2 separate regions of the Homo sapiens genome follow, and region 1 is linked to region 2. Evidence: fine-mapped expression QTL. A gene starts in region 2. The other region holds a variant in brackets. All regions are shown on one strand. Distances are between the middles of the regions.

Evidence for each region. PIP is the estimated chance that this variant, and not a neighbour inherited with it, causes the effect.
Region 1: its variant is fine-mapped to the expression of DNAH2 in cerebellum (GTEx, PIP 0.91).

What each region holds. Positions count from the first base shown.
Region 1 is chr17:7,737,331-7,745,330 of GRCh38, forward strand. It overlaps DNAH2 (dynein axonemal heavy chain 2), which reads left to right. Exons shown (of 86, transcript NM_020877.5): 9 at 2,403-2,608; 10 at 3,090-3,219; 11 at 3,480-3,662; 12 at 5,598-5,812. Among named protein-coding and RNA genes, the nearest start is that of DNAH2, 24 kb to the left of the region's middle. The variant C/A (reference allele first, on the strand shown) is at 3,853.
Region 2 is chr17:7,712,263-7,721,823 of GRCh38, forward strand. It overlaps DNAH2 (dynein axonemal heavy chain 2), which reads left to right and starts at 5,482. Exons shown (of 86, transcript NM_020877.5): 1 at 5,482-6,537; 2 at 7,459-7,638. The coding sequence starts at 7,473.

The DNA.
Region 1 (8,000 bases), 24 kb after region 2:
TTCGGCAGAGGATCTGTGGTTGAAAAGGTAGTGAAGATTGCCCTTCTGCTCAGAGACTGAGCTCAGAAGGCTTCTACCGGCATGATCTGCTTTAGGGTTGCTCAGCATTGGAGCCTGGGCTGGACTTTCTGTTTCTAGGTGGAGGTGGCTTAGGCAGGAAGAGGGGCTTCAGAAGAGGAGTTGGTGGAAGACGGGGAAGCAGCAGGAAGAACAGACCCCCAAGCTGAGCTGTGTGGAAGGAAAAGCTCTTCTTCCCATTCCTCAAGATGGAGATTGCAGTGGGGGAGAGGGGATTTAGGAAGGAGCACCGGCTCTTGAGGAGCAGGGCCTGGTGCATTCACTGGGGGTGAAAAAGCCAAAGAGTGGGAGAAGGGACACTGAGCTGAGACCTTGCTGGGCAGGGTGGCTGCAGAGCTGGGCTGAGGCAGAGTAAGGGGCCACCTAGGACAAGGAGTGGGCATGGAACCCAGAGGTGTCGGCCTGGCCAGGGGTGGAGAACCAGGGGTGGGATGAGTTTCAGGAGTCAAATTAAGGAGTAGGGGGCTGAGACATGAAGCACGGGCAGGGGGATGCAGAGAAGGAGTTGGGTGTCAAGGAGGTGGGGACAGAGGCTGTGGGGACTCCTTCTGCAGATGAGCAATGAGATCATCCGCTTATGCTGCCACGCCATCTCCCTGGACCGGATCTTTGAGGGATATGTCTCTTCCAGCAAGGAGGACCTGCAAGGCTGCATTCTCTGTTGTCACGCTTGGAAAGATCACTACGTACAGGCTGTGCAGATGCACATCCAGTATGATACGCCTCCCCTAACATCCCATGTCTCAACTCCCTTGTCAGCCCTGTAAGAGGGTAGATTCTGACTTCTTTCCTGTACACTTTGTTTAGCCTCTTGGTTGTATTTTCCGAGACCCAGGAGTTTCTACATCTGGCCAAATTTTCTGTCTGGATACAGATACTGTATCTCATTGCCCTGGCTTCTCCTTTTTTGTTTTTTAATTTTAATTTTAATTTTTTTTTGAGACAGAGTCTTGGTCTGCCACCCAGGCTGGAGTGCAGTGGCGCGATCTCAGCTCACTGCAAGCTCAGCCTCCGAGGTTCATGCCATTCTCCTGCCTCAGCCTCCCCAGTAGCTGGGACTACAGGTGCCCGCCACCATGCCAGGCTAATTTTTTGTATTTTTAGTAGAGACAGGGTTTCACCGTGTTAGCCAGGGTGGTCTCGATCTCCTGACCTTGTGATCTGCTCGCCTTGGCCTCTCAAAGTGCTGGGATTACAGGCGTGAGCCACCACGCCCTGCCTGGCTTCTTATTTTAATAATCTCTCCTCCCTGATCCCAGGAACCCTACCTGGTCTTTTCCTCCTATCTTGACCCCATCGTCTAAAATTCTATTATGTATGAATCTGCTCCTAGAACTTAGATGCTCTGTCTCCTGTCTGGTTCTTCTCACCTTGAGTCTTGTCCTTTGGGATTCAGGAGGGTTGTTTCTCGGGGTCTGATTTTTCTAGGGCTTTCCCTGAATGCAGGGCTCCTGGTCTAGGTTTGCATAGCCAGACTGCTCTTGCCTTCCAATTCAGTCGGCCTTTCTCCTGACACAGGTTCTCCAGTCGGGGCTGGGTCCTAGATCAGACCAGCATCTTTGCTCAGGTTGATGCCTTTGTGCAGCGCTGCAAGGACCTTATTGAGGTGGGAAGACTGAAGAACCAAAAGCTAACAGCAGACCCTCCAGAATCCCTCCCCACCTCCCACCCCAGGAACCAGGGCAAACGGGGCAGAGGCTAAATATTGAACTTATGGCCAGGCGCGGTGGCTCACGCCTGTAATCCCAGCACTTTGGGAGGCTGAGGCGGGCAGATCACCTGCGATCAGCAGTTCGAGACCAGCCTGGCCAACATGGTGAAACCCCGTCTCTACTAAAAATACAAAAATTAGCCGGGCCTGGTGGTGCATACCTGTAATCCTAGCTGCTTGGGAGGCTGAGGCAGGAGAATCTCTTGAACCCGGGAAGCGGAGGTTGCAGTGAGCCGAGATCATGCCACTGCACTCCAGCCTGGGCAACAGAGAGAGACTCTGTCTCAAAAAAATAAAAGAAAAGAAAATTGCACTTACCACATTGGCTTTTCCTGCACAATTGTGTGTCCTACTACCACACCGCTTTTTCTGGCATTTGCCTCTTATCGCTGCCCTACTATTTCATATTTCATTCTGTGGCCAAAGTTCATCCCAGCAGCCCCCTGCAGCTGGTTGGCCCTCCCTGGTTTTTAGATATTTTCTTCTTCTTTTTTTTTTTTTCACTTGCCATCACTCACAGTGATGTTTTTAGACATTTGAAGCTAAACCAAATAGCTTAGGACTTTGGAGTTTGGAAGGAAAGCAGGAACCCTCATGCTGTCTTCTTTTTTAGGTATGTGACTGTCAGTATCACTTCGCCCGCTGGGAAGATGGCAAGCAGGGTCCCCTTCCTTGCTTCTTTGGTGCCCAGGGGCCACAGATAACACGGAACTTGCTGGAGATTGAGGACATCTTTCATAAAAATCTGCACACGCTGCGAGCCGTTCGCGGGGGTATCCTGGATGTCAAGAACACCTGTTGGCATGAAGACTACAATAAGTGAGGGAACCACAGGCTGATGCCAGGCGTGGGCAGGGAAGGCAGATCAGGCAGCCAAGAGTGGGAGGAGTGGCGAGAGTATGCAAAGGAAATGGTGGAAGGACAGATCGGGATCAGGGCGGTGGCCCGGGGGGGGGGACAGGAGAGAGTGCAGGGGAGGGGGGTGGCAGCTTGGGTTGAGGGTTCCAGAGTGAGCCTTTCCGGACTTGGATCTTGGTTCTGCCACATACCAGATATATGACATTGGGCAAATTACTCCACCAGCTGTCTCCACTTCCTCCTCTATGCAATACGGTTAGAGATAGAGCCCATCTCACAGCATTGTTTTGAGGATTAAATGGATTCATGTAGGTAAAGTACTTGGAGTGCCTGGCACACAGGAAGCCCTCTGTCCTCAGCAATGCATGGGATTCTTCCTCAGGGGTTGGAGTTGGGGGCAGGCGAGGGCACTCAGCTGCCACATGCCTCTCCACCGGTGCAGGTTCCGTGCCGGAATCAAGGACCTGGAGGTGATGACCCAGAACCTGATCACCTCAGCCTTCGAGTTGGTGCGGGACGTGCCGCACGGCGTGCTTCTGCTGGACACCTTCCACAGGCTTGCCTCCCGCGAGGTGCGGCTGCCCCGCGGCTTCCTCGGCTTCCCGTCCCGCGTGCTTTCCTGGAGTCCCTCCTTCCGGAGGCCCTCCTGCCTCCACGTGTGCCCTTCTCCATGTCCAGCATTCGGGCGCCTCTTGTCTTTCTTCTGTTCCCTGGCTTCGGCGTCCCCGGGAGTGTGACTCCCGCAGCGGGGTGCAGCTTTCCTCTGGGATGAGTGACCGGAGGGAACCCGCCTTCCCGGGCACGTCGCCAGCCTCTTCCTCTTCTTCCCTAGGCTATCAAGCGGACTTATGACAAGAAGGCGGTGGATCTCTACATGCTGTTCAATAGCGAGCTGGCCCTGGTGAACCGTGAACGGAACAAGAAATGGCCAGACCTGGAGCCCTACGTGGCCCAGTATTCCGGAAAGGCGCGCTGGGTGCACATCCTCCGGCGTCGCATCGACAGAGTCATGACCGTAAGTGCCTGGCCTTCTCCATATTCTGTCGTCAGTGAGACCGCCAGGAGGGATGGGGGATGGCTCCTGAGAGGTTCCCCAAAGAGTCTTCAGGACCAGCACCTATGTCGGTGAGGGGAGTGGCAGGTCCAGTTCAGTGAGGTCAGTCGTGGGTTAAGATCTGCAGAGGTGGTGTGTGAGGCTGGTAGAA[C/A]ATGCGCCATTTTAGGAATTTCTTTTCTTCCTTCCTTTCTTTTTTTTCTCTCTCTCTTTCTTTCTTTCTTTCTTTCTTTCTTTCTTTCTTTCTTTCTTTCTTTCTTTCTTTCTTCCTTCCTTCCCTCCCTCCCTCCCTCCCTCCTTCCTTCCTTCCTTCCTTCCTTCCTTCCTTCCTTTCTTTTTGTTTTTTTGAGACGGAGTCTCACACTGTCGCCCAGGCTGGAGTGCAATGGCTCGATCTCAGCTCACTGCAAGCTCTGCCTCCCGGGTTCACACCATTCTCCTGCCTCAGCCTCCCGAGTAGCTGGGACTACAGGTGCCCGCCACCGCACCCAGCTAATTTTTTTGTATTTTTAGTAGAGATGGGGTTTCACCGTGTTAGCCAGGATGGTCTGAGTCTCCTGACCTCATGATCCACCCACCTGGGCCTCCCAAAGTGCTGGGATTACAGGCGTGAGCCACCGCGCCCGGCTTCTTTTTCTTTTTTCTTTTTTTCTGAGATGGAGTTTTGCTCTTGTTGCCCAGGCTGGAGTGCAGTGGTGTGATCTCGGCTCACCGCAACCTTCGCCTCCCAGGTCCAAGCGATTCTCCTGCCTTAGCCTCTCAGGAGCTGGGATTACAGGCATGCACCACCACGCCCGGCTAATTTTGTATTTTTAGTAGAGAAGAGGTTTCTCCATGTTGGTCAGGCTGGTCTCGAACTCCCGACCTCAGGTGATCCACCCACCTTGGCCTCCCAAATTGCTGGGATTACAGGCATGAGCCACTGCGCCCGGCCTCATTTTAGGAATTTCATATCAGGCTGCAGAGGAGGAATAGGGCCGGTATCTGGGGTGTTGGGTCAGTAGAAGATACAGCCTCATGATCCAGAGACCTGGACAGGTGACACCCTTACAGAGCCTGGTCTCTCTGGAAAGACAGCACAAAGAAACAACAGAAAAACATTGTTTTAAAACTTTCTGGGGCCAGGTGCGGTGGCTCACACCTGTAATCCCAGCACTTTGGGAGGCCAAGGTGGGTGGATCATTTGAAGTTAGGAGTTCATGACCAGTTTGGCCAACATGGTGAGACCCTGTCTCTACTAAAAATACAAAAAGTTAGCCAGGTGTGGTGGCGGGCACCTGTAATCCCAGCTATTTGGGAGGCTAAGGCAGGACAATTGCTTGAACCCTGGAGGCAGAAGTTGCAGTGAGCCGAGATCGCGCCACTGTACTCCAGCCTGGGTGGTGGAGAGAGACTCTGTCACAAACAAACAAAACAAACAAATGAACACACACACCCTTTGGGAATAAAGGTTGAAAGCTGTTGAGGTAGTGACCTGCCATCATGCAGCTGGTGCTGGTAGAGAGTTAGGCAGCCTGCAGATAGCTGGAGGCTGGTTTGGGCCTGGTGGACTACGCCCAGGCTAGGAAGGGCTGATACTGGTTTTCAACCTTGTGCCTCATATCCTGCTCCTTCTGTGACTGACCTTTTTCTCCCAGCTTTTTTTCCTAAACAAATTCTCTGTGCTTCTCTTTCCTCATTTTGACTCCTTTTCTCATTGCGCCTTGGTCTCTTCCTATCACCTTCCTTTTTGACTCTACCTTCCTTCTAAGTTATCAAAACTCAATCCATCTCCATAGCAAGCCTTATGCATATTGTTGGGGTATGTGCGCATGCGCGCATGTGTAGGTCTCAGGGAGATGGTGGCCCCTGGAGGAAGGTGGCAGGCCGACTCCACCCACCTGTTCTTCTTCCCCTCAGTGCCTTGCTGGTGCTCATTTCCTGCCCCGTATTGGGACTGGAAAGGAGAGTGTGCACACCTATCAGCAGATGGTCCAGGCCATTGATGAGCTGGTTCGAAAAACCTTCCAAGAGTGGACATCAAGTCTGGACAAGGATTGCATTCGGCGGTTGGATACCCCATTGCTGCGAATCAGCCAGGAGAAGGCGGGCATGCTGGATGTCAACTTTGACAAGTACAGGAGCCACCTGGCCCCTTTTCCCTATACTCCCCTTCTGCAGCTCTCCCAAGAATTTCACTCCCATCTTTTGACTCCTCTCTTCATTATTCTCTCTCTTTCTCATACAATATGTTTGCTATCGTCATTTTACTTTTTTTTTTCTTCTTTTATTTTTGTCTCTCCCCACCTCCCACCCTGCTATCAACATTTTAATTTTACAACTTATCTTAAAACACAACAAAACAAAACAATGATCGGCCAGGCACGGTGGCTCACACCTGTAATCCCAGCACTTTGGGAGGCTGAGGTGGGCGCATCGCTTGAGCCCAGGAGTTTGAGAACAGCCTGGGCAACATGGCAAAACCCAGTCTCTGCAAAAAATACAAAGATTAGCTGGGCGTGGTGGCACAAGCCTGTAGTCTCAGCTACTTGGGAGGGTGAGGTGGGAGGATCGCCTGAGCCCGGGAGGCAGAGGCTGCAGTGAGCTGAGATCACACCACTACACTCCAGCCTGGGCGACAGAGTGACCCTGCCTCAAAAACAAAAATCAAAAACCACTCCACTATCTGACTAAACCAGTGATGTCGCTGTTCTGCCACTAGATGGCCATAATGGCTCAGCTAAGTCACCCAAACCCTGTCCCTTTCCTGACTGTTGGTGGGGCTGTCAGACCATGCCTTCTTCTACAGCTTCATTGTTATGAAACTGTCATACTATAATTATTTAAAATGTAATTAATCAATTAACTAATTTATTAAAAATATATAGTGAGCACCTTCCATGTGTCAGGAACTGAAATAGGAACAGGCAGGGAATGTACACAACGGCCAAGTCCCTGCCCTCAGGGAGGTTAGGCTGCTGCTTTCTAAGTCAACAGCTCTACTCTTGGAGTGGGGCTTCCTGTCCACATAAGATGCTTTGAGGCTGTGGCTACTAGTGTTGGATTCCACTCATAAAATGTCCATGCTTGAGCCTGGCCAGCATGGCGAAACCCTGTCTCTACTAAAAATACAAAAATTAGCTGGGCATTGTGGCAGGTGCCTATAATCCTAGCTACTTGGGAGGCTGAGGCAGGAAAATCGCTTGAACCCGGGAGGCGGAGGTTGCAGTGAGCCGAGATCACGCCATTGCACTCCAGCCTGGGCGACAGAGTGAGTCTCCGTCTCAAAAAAAAAAAAAAAAAAAAAAAAATGCTTGTGGGGCCAAATGTAGGAGGGGCTTTGCCAGAGAAGTGCTGTGTGGAGACGGAGTCCCAGGGACAGATGAGACTGTGAGTGTTTGTCCTGGGCAGCAAAAGGTGGCCCAACCAGGGGAAGAGGGCACATTCTGGCTGAGAAAGGAAGCAAAAGAACCAGGATGGAGAAGCAGAGCGGAGTGTCAGGTGAGAGGGGTGAGGCAGAGGCATCAGTGAGGAGGACAGGGATGTTGGGAGCTGCAGGGATGAGGAAGCCGTTGAGGAGCAGAGTGTGCACATGGCTAGGTCGAGAGGTTTGAGAAAAGGCTTCGAGTAGTGAGAGTTGTTGGAGATTGGCTTTGCTGAGCTTCCTGGTTTTGTGAGTTATGGCCAAGCACAGCCACGTAAACATTGCCTCATAAATCAACGATAAGATTCTGAAGACTGAGAAACTAGGCCAGAGTTAGCCTAGTTACGCCATTTGCAAGCGCATAATGGGGTTGAACCTGCAAGACACATTCTCCCATCGAGCTGGGTACCCCCAAAGTTATTGTGTCAGGGGAGCCGCACAGATGCCCTTGGTGTTTATGGATATGAGGGCACACAGTTCACCAGCTGTCCTTTTTCTGTGAAATAAGGGATTGTATTCAAATAACAGGATTTCCTTAAACACTAATGATCAATCTTTACATTTCTTTTTTTTTTTTTCTTGAGACAGAGTCTCACTCTGTCGCCCAGGTTGGAGTGCAGTGGCGCAATCTTGGCTCACTGCAACCTCCGCCTCCTGAGTTCAAGCAATTCTCCTGCCTCAGCCTCCCGAGTATCTGGGATTACAGGCGCCCGCCACCACGCCCGGCTAATTTTTGTGTTTTTATTAGAGATGGTGTTTTGCCATGTTGGCCAAGCTGGTCTTAAAATCCTGACCTCAGGTGATCTGGCCACCTCGGCCTCCCAAAGTGCTGGGATTACAGGCATGAGCCACTGTGTCTGGCCAAGTATTTACATTTCAAATATGAGAGAAAACAAAAG
Region 2 (9,561 bases):
GAAAGGCTGGTCCTTGCCCCTTAGTGGGGGTTGGTTGTCATGGCAACATCCCCTTCTCTACACAATGGGAAGCCCCCCTCAGCCTCCCGCGTGGATGGAGCCGACAGCCCCATCGCTGGCTATCAGCCTCAGGGACTTGGCAACCGTCACTATGGCAACCCAGAGCCCAGCAACAGGGCCCACTGAGAAAGGGAGGGGTCCAAGACTGGGGCAGGGTGGTGTGTGAGGGGCAAGGGAGATCAGGGAGACTCCCCCTCCACCTACATCTAGAGGCACAGGTGGAGAGACAAGAGGGAAGAGACGTGGGGATAAATAGTCTCCGTGACAGACAAGCACCTCGCCAAAGCAGCCAAGACATCATAACATGCTGAGAGACAGGAAGACACCTGGGGACAGATGCACAGCCAGGGAGAGGAACAGCACAGACTGCACAGCGCCTGGGACACGCCCCCTCAGAGCGCTGGCATCCAGAGACTCCCCGCAGCCCCGCTCGAATAGCACAAGACCAACAGCCTTTCACATGTGTAGTGACTTGGGTGTCTGGAGCTATTTGAAAATGCTGGTGACTTCCACGCAGAATAACACAGGCCGTCCTATTTGCTTTGTGGGGACAAATACACACACATATTCCTAGAGTAACAACTGCAACAAAACAACTACAGCAAAACGACTACAGGCACAGGAAGACATTTGTTTGTTCATTGGTTTGTTCGTTCACTCGCTCAGCAGCATGTTAAATGCTACTTTGTTTCAGGCACCGGTTCAGGCGCTGGGAGGACAGGGTGAGTAAGGCCAGGTCCCCGCTTTCACAAAGTCCACATTTAGGTGGGGAACGAAATAATACAATTTCAGGTGTGAAAAGGGATATAAACAAAACAGAATGACAGGATGAGGAGGATGGAGAGTAACCAGGAGCTGCTTTATTTATTTATTAATTTATTAATTTATTTATTTTTGAGATGGAATCTTGCTCTGTTGCCCAGGCTGGAGTGCAGTGGCGCGATCTCGGCTAACTGCAACCTCCACCTCCCGGGCTCAAGCGATGATTGTCCTGCCTCAGCCTCCCAAGTAGCTAGGATTAACAGGTGCCCGCCACCTTGCCCAGCTAAGTTTTGTATTTTTAGTAGGGTCGGGGTTTCAACATGTTGGCCAGGCTGGTCTCGAACTCCTGACCTTAGGTGCTCAGCCCACCTTGGCCTCCCAAAGTGCTGGGATGACAGGCATGAGCCACCGCACCCGGCCTGGAGCTGCTTTAGATGAGGAGGTCAGGAAGGTCCCTTTGAAAGAGATGCCCTTGATCAGGACCTTAAGTCATGAGACAGGAGTAAGCCATGCACACTGGGGACGGGCATGCTAGACAGAGGAACAGCAAGTGCACGGGCACAGAGGTGAGATTGTGGTGTGTTTGGGAACAGTAAGAAGGACATCACCACCACATGCATGTTTCGGATGTGTCCTGTTCTTCCCTAGCCTCGGCCTGGAGGGGAGTAAGTCACTTAGGGTCTTGGATCCACATTAAGGAAGTTGATCTCACTCAGTCTCCCATCCCCTTGCCTTTTGTTTCTTGTGTGTCTGTGACTTGTGTTTTCCTCGTCTAAATTTTAAGCTCTGGGAGGGCAAGGATGATGCTCTGAGCTTTTTTGGGGGCTGTGGCACAGCTGCTGGCAGAGTCCAGAGCAGGAAGGCAGAGCGGAAGTAAAGGAACCGAGAGGGCTGGGACCACAGAAGCTAGAGCTGTCGCCCTGCCATCCCCAAACCGCATAGGATTGAGGCTGTCTTGGGGCTGAGCTGTAGAGTGAAGCTCAGGCTTTGCCCTCCTTCCAAATAACGGCAGCTGAGGGATACTATTCAGCCCGAGGTGCGTGTGTGTGTGCGTGTGTGTGTGTGTGTGTGTGTGTGTGTGTTGGGGGTTTTTAGGGAAAGGGGAATGGGGCAAGGAGTGGCAGTGGGAATTTCTTTTCTTTTTCTTTTCTTTTTTTTTTTTTTTGAGACAGTCTCGCTCTGTGGCCCAGGCTGGAGTGCAGTGGTGCAATTCTCGTGCCTCAGCCTCCCGAGTAGCTGGGACTACAGGCATGTGCCACCACGCCCGGCTAATTTTTTGTATTTTTAGTAGAGATGGGGTTTCACCACATTGGCCAGGCTGGTCTTGAACTCCCGACCTCAGGTGATCCACCCACCTCAGCTTCCCAAAGTGCTGGAATTACAGATGTGAGCCACTGTGCCTGGCCTTGCAGTGGGAATTTCTGATGCGGAATGGTTGACATCATATCTGGAATTTTAATTAGAATGAAAAATGGCCCTTCCTAAGGGGCTATATGGGCCACCGTGGACATGGGGCTTGGGAGAGTTTTGAGACCTGGGAGAAATGTCACACGGTGGTTTGGAGGCAGGAGGCTGTCTGGCATAGGCTCAGAGTTGGGTGGGGGAAGGAAAAGGGACACAGAATGAATGGGAATGACAACTGGGCAGCCAGAGAGCTACTTGAAAGGTAGCAGGGAAAGTGGAGTTCTGAAGGGAGTTCTGAGGGGACCAGGCCCCAGGTACCCCAATTCCCACAGGGAATCGAAGTGTTCAGTTTTCTGGTTCTCCCTCTTCCTCCAGTTGCCATCAGAAACTCAGGCACCGCAACCCCAGTGGCTGGCGGGGTGATGTCGGGGGGAGACTGAGCTGCTTCAGGGGGTAGCAGCTGGTGAGTTGGGAGGAATCTGTGTGCTCAGCAAACAGCAGCCTCAGTGCCCGGTGGCTGCCTCCTCCCTCATCAATCAGCCCCAGCCAAATGTCCTTGCATTCCCACCACCCCAAGGGGACTGGGGCTGGGCCAGGGTCCCCAGGGGAGATGGGGATGGGTGGGGGGAGGTGAAGGGGGGTGCTTGGCTTCCTTTCCCTTGGCCTCTGTTCTCTTCTGTCCTGGAAGCTCTCAGTTCTTCATGTCATGGAATGACTATCCTGGCCCCTACCATCGTGGGGGCATCAGCTACAAATCACCTGTGGGGGGCTGCTGGGGGAGAAGGATGAGTCAGGCTGTAGAGTAATCTACTCTGGTTCTCACGGGACCAGCCCAGGGCACAGCCGGCAGGGAGGCTGCTGGCATAGAGGCCCTGTCTCCCCTGGCCTCTGTCTCTGATGAATGATCCGGACAGCAGGCCGAGACCCTGACCCCTGGAATGGACCTCTCTTTCCACCTTCTCCTAGCCCCCAGTCCTCATCCCCTGCTTCCAGCCAAGATCCAGAGGTCTGGCCCCCAGCTCACCCCAAATCTGCTGTTCCCCACTAGGGACTGGGGTCTCTAGACCTTAGCCTCTGGCTCCCTTTCCCCCTCCTCAGCCTTTGCTCCCCTCCGGGACCCAGGCGTCCTGCCCACTCCCTTCACCATAACAACCATTCTTTTGGAGTTGCTTAAGACTTTAATATCATTTCATTAAGTCAGCAAGTTCAGAGAAGGTTGGGGGCACAAAGAGACTGGGGGTGGGCAAAAGAGGGCCAAAGTAGGGGGGAGGCAAGGAAAGATCCCCCACCCCCCTCTCCGTGGAGATGGCTCTGAGAAATCAAATATTGACAATGAGGGAACAGAACTTATTAAATCTGGGACAGGGATGTGTGTGGGGAGCTGTGGGAATGGCCGGATGCCTGGGTTCGGAGGGTAATGAAGGTTCTGGGAGGAGGAAAAGGGCCGTGGCTGGGAGGTGCAGCAAGGCTGAGGCTCGAGGTCACAACTCTTCTGCCCTTTCCTTTGGGATGTACACGGTCTTGCAACCCTGGCTGTTTCTCTAGCCCCGAAGAGCCCCTGGGGAAAAGACCCCCATCATAGCTAGCTGTGGTTGCCCCGCCTTCGTCCCTTCCCCCTACCTCCACCTCTGTTGATGAGCTTCAGCAGCGTTTAATCGGATTGAGCAGTAATTAGCAAAGCGAGATGTTTGATTACCTATTTAGCATAATGTGGGGGGCTGGGATCCGTAGGCACAGCCACAGTTGGGGAGGGGGGTTTAAGAAAAGAAATGGGGTCTGTGCAAAGTTCCTTTCCCCGAGGGACCCATGAACCTTGCCCCTGAGGCTCCCCACCCCACGCCTCCAGCAAATTTTCACTCCTTTGGGACTTTTCCCTAGGGGTTCTGGCCAACCACATCACCTCTGTCTGCCACCCATGGCCTATCTGGCTAGAGGAACACCTCCACGTTCCATCTTAGCTGTGCTAGCTGTGCAGCTGGTTTTGGGGTGGGCGGTACTCCTCTCCTTCCATTCCTGCTGTCAGCAACAGGAGTCTGGCTGGGCAGGAGGAATTATTGGGGGTCGGGGGGAGGGAAAGGGTTGACACTTCTGGGAATAAAGATACGGTAGGTGGGAGGGTGAGGTCAGCGCTGGGATAGGGTGTGGTTAATCCACTTGCTCTTCAGGAGTACCAGGGACTGCCACTCCTGGTAGTGCCAGGCTGGCATAATGAGATCTGTTAGGTGTGAACGCCAAACAGAAAATGGGGGAACTGAGGTGCCAGCTTCTCTTCTCCTCATCCAGCAAAGAAAATGTCATAAATTTCGCTCCTCATGGAAATGTAATCAGTGGGCTCGCTGCTGGCTTTGTCTTAATTAGGCACTATTGATGGAAACAGGGAGGGCGCCTTCCCATCCCCCCACTCGGCTTCCTCCCTGTATTTCCCAGGTCTCCCCAAAGCTCCTCCCGGCACCAGGTACAGCGGTCTTCCAGGCGCCTTCTAGCAGCCCCGGCCCGCAGCGCCCCCTGGCACCCTCGGAGATGTACCCCGGCCCTCATAGCCCTCCCCTCTCGCCTCCTCTCTCACGACGCAGCCTTTGTTCCTATGGAGAGCGAAGCCCCTCCCAGGCCCGGTCACCTTCCCCAGGGAGTCCCCGCCTCTCATCCCCCCCAAAAACCAGCGATGCCTTCGAAAGCCAATCCTCAGATTCCCAAAACTCCAGTTCCCGTCTTCCCTCCCTTTCCCCGCCCCGCGCCGCCCCCCCGCAATCCTAGACCCCAATCCGAACTAAGAAGGGGGAAGGAGCAGGAGGGCAAGGGTGCTCCAGGCCCGGTTTTTCCCCCGGATCCAGCTGCACCCACGGCTGCCTGGAAATCCTGGAACGCCTTCTACATCGCGAATATCCCTCGCCGGCCTGGCGCCCGGCGCCATCTGCTGGACCCGTTCCGGCTGGGGCGCACAGACCTGGGCGCGGGGTCGGGCGATTGGGTTCTCCCTGCCTTTTCAATGTCCTGCGGGGCGGTGGCTCACTGTCTCTCGCCCCAGCCCTTCCAGCTGGGTCCTGACACCAGGCCCCCCGCACCCTTCGGCTCGCCAGATGTGGCTACTTTCCTTTAGTCCCGGAGCCTTCAAGCCCTGGGTCCCTGAGGGGTAGACCTGGGCGGGGTGGGGCCGCGAAGCAGGGATCCAGGGCGCCTGCGCGGAGGAGGCGGGCTCCGAGGGGCCGCACACCGGCCACTCGCCCCTCCCTGCCCGGGGTTGCCATGGGGACGCGTGCAGACGCCGGCCCGAGAGGGCTGCGAGGGGCAACTTCTTAGAGTGGCCCATCGGTCGGTCTAGGGAGGGGAGGGTCAGCGTGGCAAGGTGTGTGTCGGGGGCAGAGGGAAGGAGGGAAGGAGTGCTGGGGAGAAGGGGCAGTAGTGTCGGGGTAGGAAGGGACAGTTGTTGGGGAGAAGAGGCAGTTGTGGAGGGAGAGGGAGCAAGGAATATTTGTGTGGGGGAGGGGGAGGAGAAGGGGCAGTTGTGACAGCTGGGGGGGAAGAGCCATTCTGAGGGGAAATTTGCCTGCTGGTAACCAGTTTAAGGATACCAGCTGCTGGTATAAATACTGCTGGATAAATACTGCTGGATTTATACTGCAGGATAAATACTGCTGGCCCCTGCGGTATTTCCTAGTACTAGAGTGAGCCCCGACTTAGCAGAGCAGTTCCTCCTGGGGCCTGCGGTGTGGGATCGCGTGGTGAACCCCACGGTGCATGCGCCTCAGGCTCTAGTTTGAGGCAGGAAAGCGCAGCTTGATGCTTCTCTGGAGACTGATGGAGGAAGCCTCCTTGCTGTAGTTGGTTTTATTGATTTGCTGGCCTAACAGAACGTTTTTCCTTGGAGCAAAGTACAAATCCTTCAAGTTTGAAATTCATAACCTGAGATCAATGCCTGTGGCAGCCTGTGGGGATGAGGAAGGAGAGCCACAGGTGCCGTTAGGCTGCAGCCTAATGAAAAGAGAGTGCCCAGCGCCTCAGACTTTGCGCCTGGGATTCTGAGCACCTGTCCGAGATCCCCGCTTCCTGCCATCCTACCTTTCTGAGAGAGGCACCACTGTGACCTTCCTCGTGCCCCAATTGCTTTTTCCTCATGACACAATTTGAAATTTATGATTGGATGACTTTTGTCCTTCTTTCTTCCAATCTGTTCTCAGGGCATTTTGAGTCAAATAAATGATCCTGACTGATCTTAACCATTAGCACAGAGTTCCTCAGCCAACTCTGCTAAGAGACCTCAGTACACACAAAACAGTGTTCCTGCCCCTCAGGACTTCAAAGCGATAGACCCAGGTGGCAAATACTGTTTTTCTCTGTTTACAGATGTTGCAGATTTTAGTGGGATTGGGAGGAGCATATTTCCATTTAACTTGGGAGGAAAAGAGGTACATAGGAAAATCATCTTGGTTTGCTTGAATGATTGAACAGTGACAAAGGATGGGGGATGTGCACCCCTTCCTTGATCCTCTCTCACTCACTCATGGTCCTGGAGGGTAGAGTGGATGAGGGTTTGGGCAACCACACTTCAGCTTGATAGATCTTTTCCTGATTATCTTATGTTCTCATACCCCGGGGCAGAGATAGAGGTTCTAAATCCTCATTAGTGGGGTGTCTGGCCATCTTTTTTTTTTTTTTTTTTGAGATAGAGTCTCACTCTGTCAGCCAGGCTGGAGTATAGTAGCATGATCTTGGCTCACTGCAGCCTCTACCTCTCGGGTTCAAGAGATTCTCCTGCCTCAGCCTCCCGAGTAGCTGGAATTACAGGCACGCACCACCACTCCTGGCTAATTTTTTGTATTTTTAGTAGAGACGGGGTTTTGCCATGTTGGCCAGGCTGGTCTCGAACTCCTGACCTCAGGTGATCCACCCGGCTCGGCCTCCCAAAATGCTGGGATTACAAGCATGAGCCACCGCACCCAGCCTGGCCATCATCTTTAACTCCCATTTGTTCCTAGTGCCTTGAGGGACTGACTTTGATTTTTAGCCCAGTGCCCCGAAGACAGTAGGATATCCTAGGGAAAAACAGCAAGGCCTCCCAGGCCCCTGTGGAGTACAGAGCCCTTGTGGTTAATGGAGCAGGGTGTGGGTACCACCAGAAAAGATGATCATATTGAGTTTCAGTCAATTTATGAATTCAAAAGGGACTGCTTGTATCAGGGGGCTGGTTCAGGGGTGGTATCTGCTTGTAGACTCTCCACTCCTGTATACCTGTAGGTTTTGCCTGCACGATGTCCAGCAAAGCTGAGAAGAAGCAGCGATTGAGTGGCCGAGGAAGCTCCCAGGCAAGCTGGTCAGGGCGGGCCACTCGGGCTGCTGTGGCCACACAGGAGCAGGGGAATGCCCCGGCTGTCAGTGAGCCAGAGCTGCAGGCTGAGCTCCCCAAGGAGGAGCCTGGTGGGTACTTGCTGGGGCAGAGGATGCTTAGCAATGGAGGGTGGGGAAAGTCAGAGGGGCTTGGAGGCATTTTAGGGCTGGGGAGCAGGCGCTGTTGCTTCTGGGCAGGAAACGGGCTAAGTGACGCCCCCAGCCATGGAGGTTCAGCAGCCCTGCCACTGAGTCCTTTTTTTGTATGTCTTCCTCCTGGCCAGCCTCATCCTTGTTCTTTCTGTCTTAAAATTTCCCACAATATACCAGGAGTTCACCAACCAGTCCTTTCTCTAGCCTCTTCCTCCTTATTTCAAGTGTTCCTGGTTGCTCCTACCCCACTGAAGAGGGTTTGATCTCTTCCTTTTTCCCATTTTCACCCTGGGTGGCAAAACAAATAATGTTTTTCTCCCATTAAGCCCATCACCATGGAGACTCAGCCTGTTTTGCCACCCTTTGAATCCAAAGCCCGGCTGATGCTTTCTACCATCTGTTGAGGGCTGTTCTATCTCCGCCCTCATTTTGGCAGGGACTTGGTAGACTGCGGAGGTTCAGGTTCAGGATGACAGGAAAGAAGTCTAGATCTAGGGAGGAAAGAGTTTAACGAGGCAGCCTCTTGTGGCTTTGACCTGAGGGATTCCTTTCCTGTGGGTGAGCCGGAGCCAGTAAGGTTGGAAGGTTTTTGGTAGTTGTTGCTATTGCTGGGATCTCCCTGAGAGCACTGGTCAGTGTAGACAGGACTATGAGCTAAGTGTAGACCTCCTTCTTTACCTGGAGCTCCTTTACACTGATAGTAGCTTGTGAAATAGAATCCCCTTCTAAAATTAAAGGTTGAGAGGTTAAGCGTGGGCATGGGAGAAAAGTCCCTGGGCCATAAGAACTTGCATTAGGTTCCAGGATCTTAGAAATGTGCAGAATGTATCCTTCTGAGTTCTGAAGTGCTCAGGTGAAAGCAGTTAAAATGGGATTGCTCGCTGCTAGGAGGAGTAGGGGAAGATGGGAGGGAAGACAGTGAGGTTCAGTATGGAGAATCCTCTGGGGAGGTAAGGGAAGGAGCTTTAAAATGAATGTGTTGGCCTTCGAACAGCAAGGATTTCTGCCTCTCCCAGCTCCAAGCTTTCTTTTCTTTCTTTCTTTTTTTTTTTTTTTTTTTTTTGAGACAAATTCTCACTCTGTCTCCCAGCCTGGAGTGCATTGGCATAATCTCAGCTCACTGCAACCTCTGCCTCCCGGGCTCAAGTGATTCTTGTGCCTCAGCCTCCCAAGTAGCTGGGATTACAGGCATACACCACCATGCCCAGCTTATTTTTTTTATTTTTTTGAGACAGAGTCTCTCTCAGTTGCCAAGGCTAGAGTGCAGTGGTGCGATCTCAGTTCACTGCAACCTCCACCTCCTGGGTTCAAGCGATTCTCCTGCCTCAGCCTCCTGAGTAGCTGGGATTACAGGCGTGTGCCACCACACCCGGCTAATTTTTGTATTTTTAGTAGAGATGGGGTTTCACCATGTTGCCCAGGCTGGTCTCGAACTCCTGTCCTCGAGTGATCCACCTGCCTCGGCCTCCCAAAGTGCTGGGATTACAGGCGTGAGCCACCGCACCCAGTCTCCCCTGGCCTAGTTCTTGCCTGGAACCTGAATGCCAGCAGTTTTCCCAAGGGAGTTGGATCATCTCACCTACTCACCTACTACTAAGCTCCGGAATCGCCTGTTCCATCTTTTCACGCCTTCCTGCCTCGGCCTCTGTGCCTCATTCCCCTCTTAGTTTTCCTTTCTGGAAGCCAGAGGGAGTTTCCTGTTCCTCATGGTCTTTTGGTTATATCTCATTTGTTCCTTCCTCCTTTCAGCCCCTGGGGAATGGGAAAGCCACCAGTTTTACTCCAATCTCCTGTGTGACTAGTAGATCAGGAGGCAGAGAAACAGAGCCGCTGGGTTTTATGGGAGTCAGAGTGGGTGTG